Homo sapiens: one gene and its partner. The protein of the gene in region 2 purifies or fractionates together with the protein of the main gene of each other region. This does not show direct contact. Each region holds a gene or a part of one and is shown on either strand. Other genes may lie near its edges.

What was found. Proteins that work in one complex are often made in the same cells at the same time.
Region 1: the proteins of PMPCB (region 2) and PPP4R1 purify together in Homo sapiens (affinity purification with mass spectrometry; 3 studies listed by BioGRID and IntAct, with this or other methods). This does not show direct contact.

Annotation. Positions count from the first base shown.
Region 1 is NC_000018.10:9,569,553-9,576,578, reverse strand, and holds part of PPP4R1 (serine/threonine-protein phosphatase 4 regulatory subunit 1), read left to right. Parts: intron 1-5,895; coding exon 5,896-6,422; intron 6,423-7,026. UniProt on the Homo sapiens protein: Regulatory subunit of serine/threonine-protein phosphatase 4. May play a role in regulation of cell division in renal glomeruli. The PPP4C-PPP4R1 PP4 complex may play a role in dephosphorylation and regulation of HDAC3.
Region 2 is NC_000007.14:103,307,417-103,314,442, reverse strand, and holds part of PMPCB (mitochondrial-processing peptidase subunit beta isoform 1 precursor), read right to left. Parts: intron 6,848-7,026; coding exon 6,735-6,847; intron 5,492-6,734; coding exon 5,348-5,491; intron 4,129-5,347; coding exon 3,968-4,128; intron 2,801-3,967; coding exon 2,715-2,800; intron 2,636-2,714; coding exon 2,547-2,635; intron 2,388-2,546; coding exon 2,312-2,387; coding exon of another isoform or gene 2,244-2,311; exon of another isoform or gene 2,237-2,243; coding exon 2,172-2,236; 3' UTR 1,875-2,171; coding exon of another isoform or gene 1,800-1,874; 3' UTR 1,497-1,799; coding exon of another isoform or gene 1,342-1,496; 3' UTR 1-1,341. Other genes in the region: DNAJC2 (dnaJ homolog subfamily C member 2), read left to right, coding at 1,342-1,496, 1,800-1,874. UniProt on the Homo sapiens protein: Catalytic subunit of the essential mitochondrial processing protease (MPP), which cleaves the mitochondrial sequence off newly imported precursors proteins. Preferentially, cleaves after an arginine at position P2.

The sequences.
Region 1 (7,026 bases), on a different chromosome or scaffold from region 2:
AATCTGTCAGTTAAAGGAGAAAGCCAGTATATTAGCCAGTATATCAGTTTTAAGTATATCAGTCTCATAAGGAAACCAAAGTTTTAAATAAAGCTTAAAGAGTCGGCTGTGATTTTTATTTTTAAATGTTTTTGCATTGAAAATTTTCTATTAAATTTAAATTTTAAAAATTTATTATAATATATATTTAGGGGAAAAACTAATTCAAGCCTAACTTACTAGTATGCGGGAAATGTACACAAACTTTTACAGTTATGCACTTGAAGTAATTTTAGTACAAATATTTGAAACAGTCCCTGCTATAATGCTTGAGTTACCATAGTGTCTTTTCCCTCCCTTGTCATGATGCTAATGGACATTTTCTTCTGTAGGTCTTGATACTGTGCTATTTGCTTTCTTGGTGTTTTGATTTGGCAGTTCTTCTTTCTTCTCTGCTGCCTTGTTTTACCTTTTTGCCCGTTCTCCTACTGTCCTGCTGAATAGCCAAACAAACCTGAGGTACTGTTTTTTGTAAAGGAAGAAAATCACTCAAACCTGTCTTCCTAGCAAGCAAAGTCTGTCAGTTTTTTTGAAAACAGGTGCTGCCAGGACTTTGACAAAAGTGATGATGGTGGGTGGGGAATGTTATCTATTTTTCATTTTTGAAATCAGCATACTTAAAAAATTACCTGTTTATACTGAAGACTGTTACATAACTTCTGTTTTAAAATCTGAAATGGGTCTAGTAAGAAACTATAAATTTGCAGAGAACTGTATAGGACGAGCTGGTAAACTTTCTTCTGTTTCACAACTACTCACTCGGCCTTTGCAGTGTATAAGCAGCCGTAGACATTACATAAATGGACAAGCTTGGCTGTGTTCCAGTAAAACTTCACTGACCTCAACAGTGTGCCTATCAAGGCCATGTTTGCCGCCTACCGGTGTGTAGCATTACTGCAATAGCTATTTAAAGGTAGTTCAATTCCTTGATTCTTCTTCCATTGTAATGAGGTATGTCTTAATGTCCAGGCAATACTACTTGTATTGCTGATCTTCAGTAATATTAGAGCTTATTAAATTATGTTAATGATATGGTAGGGGAAAGAGAGCATTCCTGGCTAAGGAAGGAGTTATGTTAAATATTGTAAAAGCTTTTGCATAGTTTGACAAACTATAAAGAAGTAGTCCTATATATTATTAAATCTCAGAACCATTAGTTTGTTTGCCCTCCCTTAAATAGCACAGTGGCATTTGTTTTAAGCTGTCTTAAACTGTTGTGGTATTAAGATTGATTGATTGATTATGCAAAAGTTAACTGAGCACCTCCTATGAACCAGAAACTGTAAATGGAAAGATAGAACTTCGTTCCTGTCCTCAAAGTTCTCTCAGTTTCTTAGATTCAGGTTTTTCAAACAAATGTCTTACAAAGTAAGCAAGTTTTTGGCAACATATTTCCACCACTGTTTATTGTATAGTGTTTCATCTGACCCTAGAAACATTTACTATCACTTTATTACTCTTTGAAGCATTTATTGATTCCAAACATCTGACTTACACATCAGATCTTTCACTCACCCTGGATCAGGCTGTTAATGCTTCTTTGAAAGTGCTGATAAAGCCTACTTCTCAGAAGCAGAGTTGAAATACTCAAATCTGCATTTTAAAAGTATGTAAAATAAGCATTCGTTATCACATTGTTCTCTGAATGCACCATGTTCTCTTAATTCTCCCTGTTTTTGTACTTGCTGCTCTCTGGGAAGCTTCTTGTTCCATCCATACCCTCGTTTAACAAAGTGCTGTCTTAGATGCACTGAGTTGTCCAGGAAGTACAGAGCTTTTGTCTTCATCATCAGTAGCGCTGTAATGAGAGCACTATTTTAATCCTATCCTTTTGGCTACATATTGGCATCTATCATCCAGTAGCCTCCCGGCCATGCAGTGTGGCGTCCAGCTCCTCCCTTTGTCTCCGCTGGGCCTGGCCCGTTGGTGCACATATTAATCCTGAATGAATTATTCTAGGGAAATATGGATTTGACCTCAAAAATCTGAAGTAACTAAACCACTTTTGCTGGATTTTTCCAGTTTAGCTTAATGCTAACTATATGAAAAAAAATTATTAGCACAAATTTGGAAATATTTCATGAATGCTAAAACTTCATTGAGTTAATTCACAGTACTTGGAAGGTATCCTGGAGCGTGTTTGCTTTTATCTCAGGATACAATACCTCTTTAGCCAGATGTTCTACAAGTCATTTTCTCCTTGAAATACCTGTAATTAATTTTCTAGGCCCATAGTCTCTACTAAGGAACTCTGAAGATATTAATTATAAACTTATGTAGGCACAAAAAGACACTTAAGATTCCTCCTTAAGTAGGTAGTTTCTGGACTGTCCTCTGGTGCTCTTGATACCTACGTCTCTTAGGAGACAGGATAATTCCCATTATACAGAGTCACAAAGGGCCTCAATTTTCAAAAAAAAATTTGTCTTGTACAATAGCATTTCAAAGTCTGACAATTAGGAATATCAGAATTTTAGCATTGAACAGCTTGATTTTGTATTGACTATTATACTTTACCAGGAAAAATTAGAATTTAGAGAATTTATACTTTCGACATTTTTGAAGCCATGCATGCTGTAGTTCTGTCCACAATTTAATACTGTACTAGGGAAACTTTGTCTTCTAGTTTCCTTTTAAAAAAATCATTCTAAGAGTTTTAAGTTTGGACAAACTAACAAGTTTACATTTATCAGACAAACAGTTATTTGACCAGTCATTCTCCGTTCATTTTTGCAGCTGAGAATATTAAAATTTAATTTTAACACCAAGGTGAGCTAGTGATCAAGGAACTTCAAGGCCCTGTAATTCCATCACTTTAGGAGGCTGAGGCAGGAGGATCGCTTCAGCCCAGGAGTTTGAGGCTGCAGTGAGCTATGATCATACCACTTTACACCAGCCTGGGCTACAGAGCGAGACCCTGTCTCTTAAAAAAACAATAAACAAAACAGAAGTTCATTGTATTTATTAGATAGTACATACGAGGTCTTACAAGTTTTACCCATTTGCTCTTCTCTTCCCCCTTTCTGAACAATATCTTATTATAATTTTAAAATTTTAGTTTGAATGATTTCAGAAATTTTGCAAGGATATCACAAAGAACTTCATATATCCATGTAGATTTTCCAAATACTGTTTTACCATATTTGCTTTATTCTTTTTTTCTGAACTCTTTGAGAATAAGTTTTAGACATGATATTCTTTTTACCTTTTTAAAATACTATGTATTTCTTTAAAACACAGATGTTAATATATAACTGTAGTCCAGTTACCAAAATTAGGAAATTAACATTGATACAATACTGTTAGCTAATCTAGCCTTTATTGAATTTTACCAATTGGCCCACTAATGTTCTTTATAACAAAAGGGAAAAATACATATTTTTTAATATGGACAAAATGGGAAATACATAATTCATAAACATGTAGAAGACACATTTATTTTGCATAACAGCACTAGCTTCAGGAGCTCCTTTGGAGTGGGAAAACATCTTACAGGTTATCTAGGCCAACTCCTCATTTTTATGAATAAGGAATAAGTGAGGAATCCTAGAAGTCCTTAAAAGGTTCAGAATTTTATATTAACGTAGTGCCAGTGCGAGAGTAAGAACGTTAAAGTCTGATTTCTTCACACTTGTAAACAATTGTATTATATATGCATACTGTATATTTTGTAGTTATAAGAAGAAAAATACCAGAATTTAAAATGCAGTCACAATGTGTTATGTTTTCAGATGACTTACGTATGTTTTTGTTCATCAGTATTTTAAAAAATAATCACCTGTTTGTGAAAATAATGGTTTTGAAAACAGCATTATGATGAGAGGGAACTTCGTAATTTCATGAGAATGTAGATGGTGACTGTTTAAGTGGGAGCTCACATAGGCATTAACATCACCCTCCTTTTGCACAGTCCTTTTAAGTCTCCTGTTAAACATCTTTTATTGTGTGTATTTAAAGGCACACAGATGCTTTTTCCTGTATTCATCTTACAAATTTACCTACATATTCAGCCATCCTTATTTCCCTTTCATGTTTCTTGGGAAGCAAGTCTCTTCACTGTTTAATCTGTTTTGCTGTGTTTTTGAAGCCCATATTCTTTCCTCTTCTCAGAAAGACATTGCTTTATCAGTTATTTCATCAATCTCTGTGTCTCCAGTTCTTTCATCTCTTCTAACCTATTTTCCTCAGCCTAAAAATATGCTCATCATTCTTTTATACAGGAAAAATGCCTTCACTCTTTGTTATTCTATGCAGTTGTGTTATTCTTTATTAATACTTGTTGCCTCCGCATATGTCAGCCCCACACATCTTTCTGAGTTGATGACCTCCACCTCTGTCTCAGTCTTTACCTCTTTCTCATAGATAATCACCACCTAGAACCCAACGTGGATAGCTAACTCAACCTCTTTCAACCTGAACCTGTTAGCTTTCTTGTGAAACTGTTTTTGTTACCTGCAGCATGCAATAAGTGGAAAAGTCCTGTTGATTTTTGCTGCTGTTTGAATGTGTTCTTCTGTAGTCCTGGAGACACTGCCTCCATCAGAACATCATCACTTCTTACCTGCATGTCTGTAATTCCTGCCTCCTATCTTACCTCTCAACTCATTTTCTACACTTCCTCCAGAATGGTCTTTCTAAAACAACAGATCTATTAACAATTTCCTTACTACATGATTTCCTGTAGTCCAGGATGAACTCCGGAGGTCTGCTGGTCTGGAATACAGTGGTTCATGTGATATCTTTCATCCTTGTCATCCATCATTTCCTCATTGCTGATTCCTGAATGCGTCACACCTTTTCTGCCACTCCGGCCTTTGCATGTCCTGTTTCTCCTTTAGATGCTTTTTTCTTCCCCTTAGCCCCATAAACATGTATTGGTTCTTCTAAGCACAACTCATGTCATTTCCTTGAAGGCCTTTTAATCTTCACTCCCATCTCCTCCTGTGTTCAGTGTGCTTGCATCTGTGCTTACCACCCTGTCTAGCAGCAATTTGCTGATATATCTTCATTTTTTCTGTTTGCCTCTAATTGTAATCTCAAGATCAAGAGCTGCATCTCATTCACATTTGAATCCTCAATACTGATTTCATTTCCTGGCTCTTAGTAGGTGCTCAATAAATGCCTGTTAAATTTAATTGAATCAAATAATAACACTTACAGTCGTACTTCAGATAATAGATGGCAGTAATCAGTGGACTTTAATGAATTTGTACCATCTGTCCTTATCAATTAAATTATGTCCTCATTTTAGGAAAACCTTGGGGAGTAGAGATGAATATTTTAGAAGAAACAGAAGTAATATTTACACTCAAGCAGATTTTAATATATTTTGTGAGATAGCAAATAAGTATCTTTCCTACTACTATCTTAAAATTGTTTTTATTTTATTTTCCTTGTGTAATGTAAGCAAATAGGCTTTAGGTCTCAGCTTTGCAATATGTCGTTGGAGTAGAGAGGTAATACAAATAACCCTAAAAATAAAATAATTTAAATGTTGTTATGTATCTTAAAATGATTGTAGGAATTTCTGTTTCCACTACTTTTCTTTAGTTATTTATTATTGAAATTAGCATGGTGTTATAGAATCCCAGGATTCTTAAATGTTACCTTCTCTAACTAATATATATTGCTTGACTATCTAGACTTATACTTAACAGGTATTTACATCTTTGAACACAGAACAGCTGATGGAGAAAGAAGCATTATAAATAATATACATAAACTCAGTTTGTACAGATAATCCGTAATTTTTAATGTTTAACTTGTCTAAATGCTATATGTAATATCTTTCATCAGTTTTTTTAAAGTAATTATCCTTTCATATTGTTTTTTTCCCACCAAATAAAACAATAAAAGGACCAGAGATCAAGAAGCCCCAGAGGATGTACAAGTCAGGCCAGAGGATACTCCTTCAGATCTCAGTGTTAGTAATTCCAGTGTCATACTGGAAAACACGATGGAAGACCATGCTGCTGAGGCATCCGGGAAGCCTCTAGGTGAAATTAGTGTTCCACTGGACAGCTCTTTACTTTGTACTTTGTCCTCAGAATCTCACCAGGAAGCAGCTAGTAATGAGAATGATAAAAAACCTGGTAACTACAAATCTATGTTACGACCAGAGGTTGGCACCACTTCACAAGATTCAGCTCTCTTAGATCAGGAATTGTATAACTCCTTCCATTTCTGGAGGACTCCTCTTCCTGAAATAGATCTAGACATAGAGCTTGAACAGAACTCTGGGGGAAAACCCAGCCCAGAGGGACCAGAGGAAGAATCTGAGGGCCCTGTGCCCAGTTCTCCAAACATCACCATGGCCACCAGAAAGGAACTGGAAGAAATGATAGAAAATCTAGAGCCCCACATTGATGATCCAGATGTTAAAGGTATGGAAGTCAATCAAGTTATTTATTCTGAAATTGATTAAAAATATTAGTGTCTATCTTAAAAAAATTTCATTTCAGAAAAAATTGTCATTTAATAATGTATTATGGACTGGGCACAGTGACTCATACCTATAATACCAGCACTTTGAGAGGTTGAGACAGGAGGATCACTTGAGACCAGGAGGTTGAGACCAGTCTGGGCAACATAGTAAGACCCCATCTCTACAAAAAAATAAAAAATTAGCCGGGCATGGTGGCACATGCTTGTAGTCCTAGCAACTTGGGAAACTGAGGTGGGAGATCGTTTGAGCTTAGGAGGTTGAGGCTGCACTGAGCTGTAATTGTGCCTAAGTTCAAATGGTGTCAAAGGATCATGCAGCAGCTTGCTCTGATAGTTCTCCAGCCTGGGCAACAGAGTAAGACCCTGTCTATTAAAAAAAGAAAAAGGTAGTATAACCATCATTATCATGTATTTCTAAATTCTCTTGATAAATACAATTAATCTGATTTTCAGGAAATTTTTTATTTAAAATAGGCTCATCGTTGCATTCCTTACTGTAATTTATACAGATTTGTTGATTGACAAATCACTCTCTTTGAAAGT
Region 2 (7,026 bases):
CAAGAGTGACTGGCAGTAGTGCTATGTGGGTATGACTCCTTTGCCTCTTTTATGGAAATGGGAAGGCTCCTTCCTCTTCAGTTGTACCATTAAACAGCAAGCTGGCACCATTTTTTGAATAGTGATTTCTCATAGGAGTTTTGCAACAGTACGTTTAATTTATTTTGGTATTGTGAAGTAACTGGAGAACAGCAGGAAATACTGCCATGTCACTTCCATCTTTTTTCCAAGAGAGGAAATAAAATCTATGGTATTTAGGGCTTTAAACCAATACAAGGAAATTCAACAAAAGACTTCCTAGAACTTAAAAGCTACCTTCAAAAAAGCTTCTTAGGCACCTTAGGTACCATCAAATATTATACAAATTCTCTGCTTTGTTTTGAATAGGTGGTGGTTTTGTTTTGTTTTGTTTTGTTTTTCCTTCTTTAATTGGGAAGGAACTTTGGTTTCTAGGCTTAACTTTTAACAGATCTCACAGGCCGCAGTTTCTAGTAGTAGTCAGGCTACTGGTAGTATTAGTCTGTGTTGTCACTGCATAGTCTGAAATAACTAAATTGCCAGAAGTCCATTAACTTAACCAAATCAGCTTTCTACCACTTAACATTCTACTTTTACCTACACAAGTGGACTGTGTAATACTTAACATCCTTAAGAAACATATTTGTTTCTGACACACATCTTAGATGTTTTCTGAAATATACAAGGTTTAGTTGAAGAACCACAATAGCAGTTATTGGAAGTGTTCAGCATCGGCTCCCAAGATTTTAGCAGATGTGACGAAGAGAACACCACACTACAACACAATCTAATCTCAGCTTGCCTCTCCAGCACTGGTACCTTGGGCACTTGGCTTAATTTTGCTAGGTTTGTTTCCTTCAGTGTAAAACAAGAATGATTTCCAGGGTTTCTATCCAGCAAAAGTTTAACTGTGAGGAAGCTCTTTTACCTATTCTGTAAGGAAGTAGATTTATCAGAACTCTTAATGAATTGTGGTTGTGTTTTTGAGTCCAAGAGTCCAACAGTACTATAAATTTAAATATGGCTTTTTACCAGTCTGGTGAGTGTATTACATTGATTTTTAAGAGATAAACAGTACAAGGTAGATCTTTACTATTGTGTTTTAAAAGCCTTTGAGATTTTATTTTCTGGGATGTGAGCTATCTGAAATTTTTTCTCTTATTAACACTCAGAGGGCTATATGTATCTCTCATCTCTACAAGTTTATTTTCAAAATGACACATCCCAGATTGAAATGGGCACTTAGCGAATACTTGTGGACCACAAGACTTGTCTGAGAACATGTTCAAAGACAGTTTTCAAATAAAAATTTTTCTTAATCAGGTCCATATACAGACTTCACCCCTTGGACAACAGAAGAACAGAAGCTTTTGGAACAAGCTTTGAAAACATACCCAGTAAATACACCTGAAAGATGGGAAAAAATAGCAGAAGCGGTGCCTGGCAGGACAAAGAAGGACTGCATGAAACGATACAAGGTTGCAGACTTAAGCGTTTATAGATTGTTGTATTTTAAATTGTAGCTTGGGTGATATAGCTCATATTTTATGTCTATTAAGTGGTTAATAATATAGTGCTTATTTCAAAACCAGTAGTTATGGGGTCAATATTATGAGGAAGAAATGAGCAACCTTAGAAACTTTCTAGGCCCTGGCAGATAATGAAATCAGTATATTTAGTACTATCTATCTTAGTTGCTTGAATTCTTTACACCAAACACTAGATTAAAATGTCTGTTTTTAAATCGCAACTTCTTAAATCACACCTTTCTCCCTTCCTAGGAACTTGTCGAGATGGTAAAAGCAAAGAAAGCTGCTCAAGAACAAGTGCTGAATGCAAGTAGAGCCAAGAAATGACAATCTTTGTTGTGTGTGCATTTTTATAATAAAACTGAAAATACTGTAAACATTTTCATTCTTAAAATTATACTCATGGTAATAATTTGAAAGTATGCTGCTTCCAACATAATTTCTCAGAGAACAAAGACTGACCATTAATACAAAACAACCTTCAGAGGGGTAGTCTTTTTATCCTTTGAAAGTATGATACAGTATTTAATTCAAATTTCCAAATGTATATACATGTTCATTTTTATTTTTCTCTAGCTCTGTTTTATAAATACATGTGTTCAAACAATCTTGATTAGGAGCATTTTAATCACGAAGCCAACACATGTTACTGCGTATCTGTTTAAAATCTGGTAGTTGCTTAATGGGACCTAAGGATTAAAAAGAAGAGTTAATTAAAAGTACTTGGCCAACTTTTTGCATAGAAGAAAAGAAGCCAGGCTTACCAACAGCAGCAATAGCTGGACTCCTATTATAAATGTATTTGGTACATACTTCTCGAATTGTCTCAGCATTCACAGCCTGAAATATGGAAGACACTGTCATTCAGCTGTTTGTAGTAAAAACAAAGTCTATACCTGGAACTTTTTAAAACTAAAGCAAGATGAAAGATACATATTCTCAGCTTTTGTAACAAGGATCTTTTTACACATGACCCAATAGTAACTCAGGACTACTTACATCAATTCTTGCTTCAAGCTCAGGGATGGGAATCCTTCTATTATAGCATAACATTTGCCTACCAATATCTTCACAAATTGGAGTTGAACCTGTTTAAAGAGAAGGAAAAATTAACTATTGGAATACAGATCAACCATATGAAAACAGAACCTATATCTTTATTTTTACCATCAAGCTGCAACAACATGTTTGTTTTCAGAAGATTTCTGGCTCGTGCAACCTCACTTTCTGTGACACTTGTACAGAGTCGCATCCTAAAAAACGTGGAAAAACAGTAGTAGTTGGAAAATGTTGTATTTCATGAGTTAATGACCTAAGAATGATGATGCCATCTTCTACACAAAACATACAGGTGATTACAATTTAATTCCAATGCTAAGCAAAAGCTAAAATGATTATTTTCCCCAGTATTAATTTCTCAAAAATGATACATAAACATGCCTAATTACACATTAGCAGACAAAGGCTTTATACAAATGGGCTGATCACATTTTCAGAAATGCTATAAGCATCTTGAGACTTCATGAGTCCTCATCTGTTGGAGTCTGATATGCTATGGGTTAAGTCAGTGGGTCATTCATTGGTTTCTGAAAACAATGAGTAGAGTCTAACTTAAATCTAATTTTTAACAATAATTACATCCTAGTTGACTAGATTTAGAAAGATGTAAACCAATTAAGAATAGTGGAGGAAAGGAACCAGAGCTAAATGTTTTCCAAGAAGCTGCGAGCCTTTCTGCCCATCTATCGACTCAATATACTTTGTTTTCTTTTAGCAGTGGCAACTTCAGATTTACTTTCCCTTCAACCAGATTACTTTCAGAGATATTTTCCAAACAACTTCTAGTTGGCTTTTAAACTTTTAGGATCATCTTTCTGAATTAACCTGCTTCTGAAAGATTAAAACTTTCAGCCAGGTGTGGTGGCTCACGCCTGTAATCCCAGCACTTTGGGAGGCTGAGAAGGGTGGATCTCCTGAGGTCAGGAGTTCAGGACTAGCCTGGTCAACATGGTGAAACCCCATCTCTACTAAAAAATACAAAAAATTAGCCAGGCATCGTGGGCATGGTGGTGCGCCTGTAATCCCAGCTATTCGGGAGGCTGAGGTGGGAGAATGGCTTGAACCTGGGAGGCGGAGGCTGCAGTGAGCCGAGATGGCACAACTACACTCCAGCCTGGGCAACAGAGCAAGACCTCATCTCAAAAAAAAAAAAAAAAAAAAATTCTATAGTATAAATCAGCTTCACATCTTGAGACTTAGGAAAAACCAACTGCAACCTTTGAAAACATGGCAACTACTGTTTATCTAGGTCTCTTAATTAAAAGGTAAAATTACCATAAATCACCATAAAGTATAAATAAAAAACTAGTTTAAAACGAATTAAAGGCAAAATTTAAATTACTTAAAGCTATTTTTCTCACCATTCTTTTTGAACAACATGTAGCATGTCTGCAACAGTGGATGATTCACAAACCATATACAGTCCCCATAATCCTGTATCTGTGTAGGAAGTGTTGAAAGACTGAAAGCTATGGCAAAGATTGCCATGACAAGTGAGCTGGGCCAGCTTGCTAGATAAATTCTGCAAGGAAAAAAAAATTCCAAGAGAATTTTAATTATACATGTCCAAAATACAGAAAGAAAAATGGAGTGTGTGGAAAATAGTGAATATCCTTAGAGGCTGTTTCCTAGTTTTATTCAACATCTCAGTAGTAGAGTTAAAATTCAGTATGACTAAGAATTGTGTTTATTATCTCACTTACCCAGTGCACCCCCTGGAGAAATTCATGTTATAAAAGCAATGAGTCCTTATAATTAATGTAGTAGCTATACCTACTTCTAAAACTAGATGGCTATTATCAACCCAATTTCTAGGACTCTTGGCTACATACGCTTAAAGATTCAAAGTTATATTGCATATGAAGCTTAAGATTATTTAGATGAAATGTATTTTGGAGAAATCTATGAGTAAAGACAAATCTATACAATGTGTTTTGAAATAATTCCAACTTACAAAAAAGTTGCAAAAACAGTACAGAGAATTTCATTTATCTAGATTCCCTGTTATTTTACCATGTTTGCTTTATTCTCTTTATACAAGTTTTTTCAACTGAGTTTTAGATGTGATGCTTCTTGCCCCAAATACTTTAGTATGTACTTGTGAAAAACAAGGAAATTAATGTTCTTACATCACCTTGGTATAGTTCCTCAGTATCTGTGGAGAATTGGTTCCCAGATCCCTGTGGATACCAAAATCCACAGATGCTAGAGCCCTCATGTAATATGGTATATGTAATATTTGCATATAAGCACATTCTCCTGTATACTTTAAATCATCTCTAGATAAATACCCAATCCATGTAAATGCTATGTAAATAGTTGTTATACTATATTGTTTAGGAAGTGACCAAAAAAAAAGTCCATACATGTTTAGTACAGATGCAACCATCCATTTGTTCCCCAAAATTTTCCACCTATGGTTGGTTGAATCCACGGATATGGAACCCACAGATATAGAGGGCCTACTGACTATTAAAATTAGGATATTAACATTGACATAGTACTTCTAGCTAATTCTGTCCTTATTCAAATTTTGCCACTAATAAACTTTGTGGCAAAGAAAAAAAGAAACTTTTTCTGGCCCACATGCAATCCAGGATCAGTTTATATTTTTAAGTCAGAATTCACAGTACAAGACTCTATTCTGCCACTTTAAAAAAGGATTCTTACAAAGAACTTATATTTAAGAAAACATGATAATCTTCCATCTGTTATGGAAAATTTCTTTTAAAATCACTTACCATTCCTCCCCCAAAAGAGCGATCCCAGTTGCCAATCAGCGTGTTTGCAACCATGAGACAGATTGTATCTGGATGTGCCCAACCAACAGCTTCAACAGCTATTGCAAGGTGCGCCAAAGGCATCTTGTCATCCCTCACACGAATCTAGTTAAGATAAAGCAGGAGGACCTCTAGTTAAGATTAACATTATATAACATGCTTATTAACAAGGAAAAAATCACCAGTCCCATTAACTGCAAAGTTAAAATGCACACCAGGACTCTATTTTGATTTTTTAACTATCAGGCCTCATTACATTGTTGAGTTTAATCTAGAAGAATTAAGACTAAATTAGGGAAAAATTACTTTTCCCAAAGCATTTTACTACAGACAGGCACCACATGGTTTACCTGGTCAAAAGGGTTGCATCATTTCACTGGTAGAAATCAATCCTTTGTGTTTGTCAATCTGAATTTGTCTTTTTCTTTCTTTTTTTTTGAGACAGAGTCTCACTCTGTCGCCCAGCCTGGAGTGCAGTGGCACCATCTCGGCTCACCGCAACCTCGGCCTCCCATGTTCAAGCAATTTTGCCTCAGCCTCCCGAGTAGCTGGGACTACAGGCATGCACCACCACGCCCAGCTAATTTTTGTATTTTTAGTAGAGACGGAGTTTCACCATGTTGGTGAGGCTGGTCTCAAACTCCTAACCTCAAGTGACACACTCGCCTCAGCCTCTCCAAGTGCTGGGATTACAGGCGTAAGCCACCGCACCCGGCCTCAATCTGAACTTTTCTATTGAAATGTCATATTGACGTTACAGGTTTATTTTTGTACTGCCAATGCTACAGTTCTAGGCAGCTGCCAATATCAGGGCATTTTCCAGATACTACTTTGAGCATCATCCTCAACATGGCAAACTAAGCAGCTAGTGGGGCTTAAAGCTAGTTGATAACTAGTAGATCCCCTGCAAGTTCTGGCTCTAACAGTTACTACCCCCTCCCAAAACATACTGTGGGCAAAACTGAGCCAAGAGTAAACCTGAAGTGAAAGTCAAAATACGGGGTTTAAAAGATTACTTCCAGATATTACAATATGTAAATTGGCATAGTGCCAAAGAAAAAGCACAAAAAGACCAAATTATAAACTGCTCTTAAAAACTTTGCTTCCTTTCAGACTAGAATGGAGAAATTTAAAAACAAAACAAAAAAAACCTTGCTTCCTTAGGAAGAAAAATAGGTGGTTAAAGAATACGGAAGAGGAAGGAATGTAAGCAAATGAGTACATCCTCTTCCCTTTTCCTATTATTCCATTCTTTTCCTACTGGAAATATGCACATTTTGTTTACTTATGTGTAAATACAACACAAGGAATCCAAAAGGCTAAATACTAGCTGGAAGGCTTGCCCTACCTCACTTCCTGTGAATTTGCAGGGAGGCAGAGCTGGTATTTCTCCTTTGTGTGTGCATAAAGAGTCACCGAAATGAAACTTTGCTAAGTCAAGCAATTCATCATGGGAAACACCTAAATTGAAAGAAAATATTTTCACATGTATCTAGCAGCAATATAGTTTACAATAAACCCTAGGTGGTATAATGTGATGTACATTACACATGAACTATCTACACTCACTAAAAGCCATTATTTAAGAGTAAGCTCACATAGCACACCTATTTCCTTGGTGTTGCAAAGCTTGAGGTTGC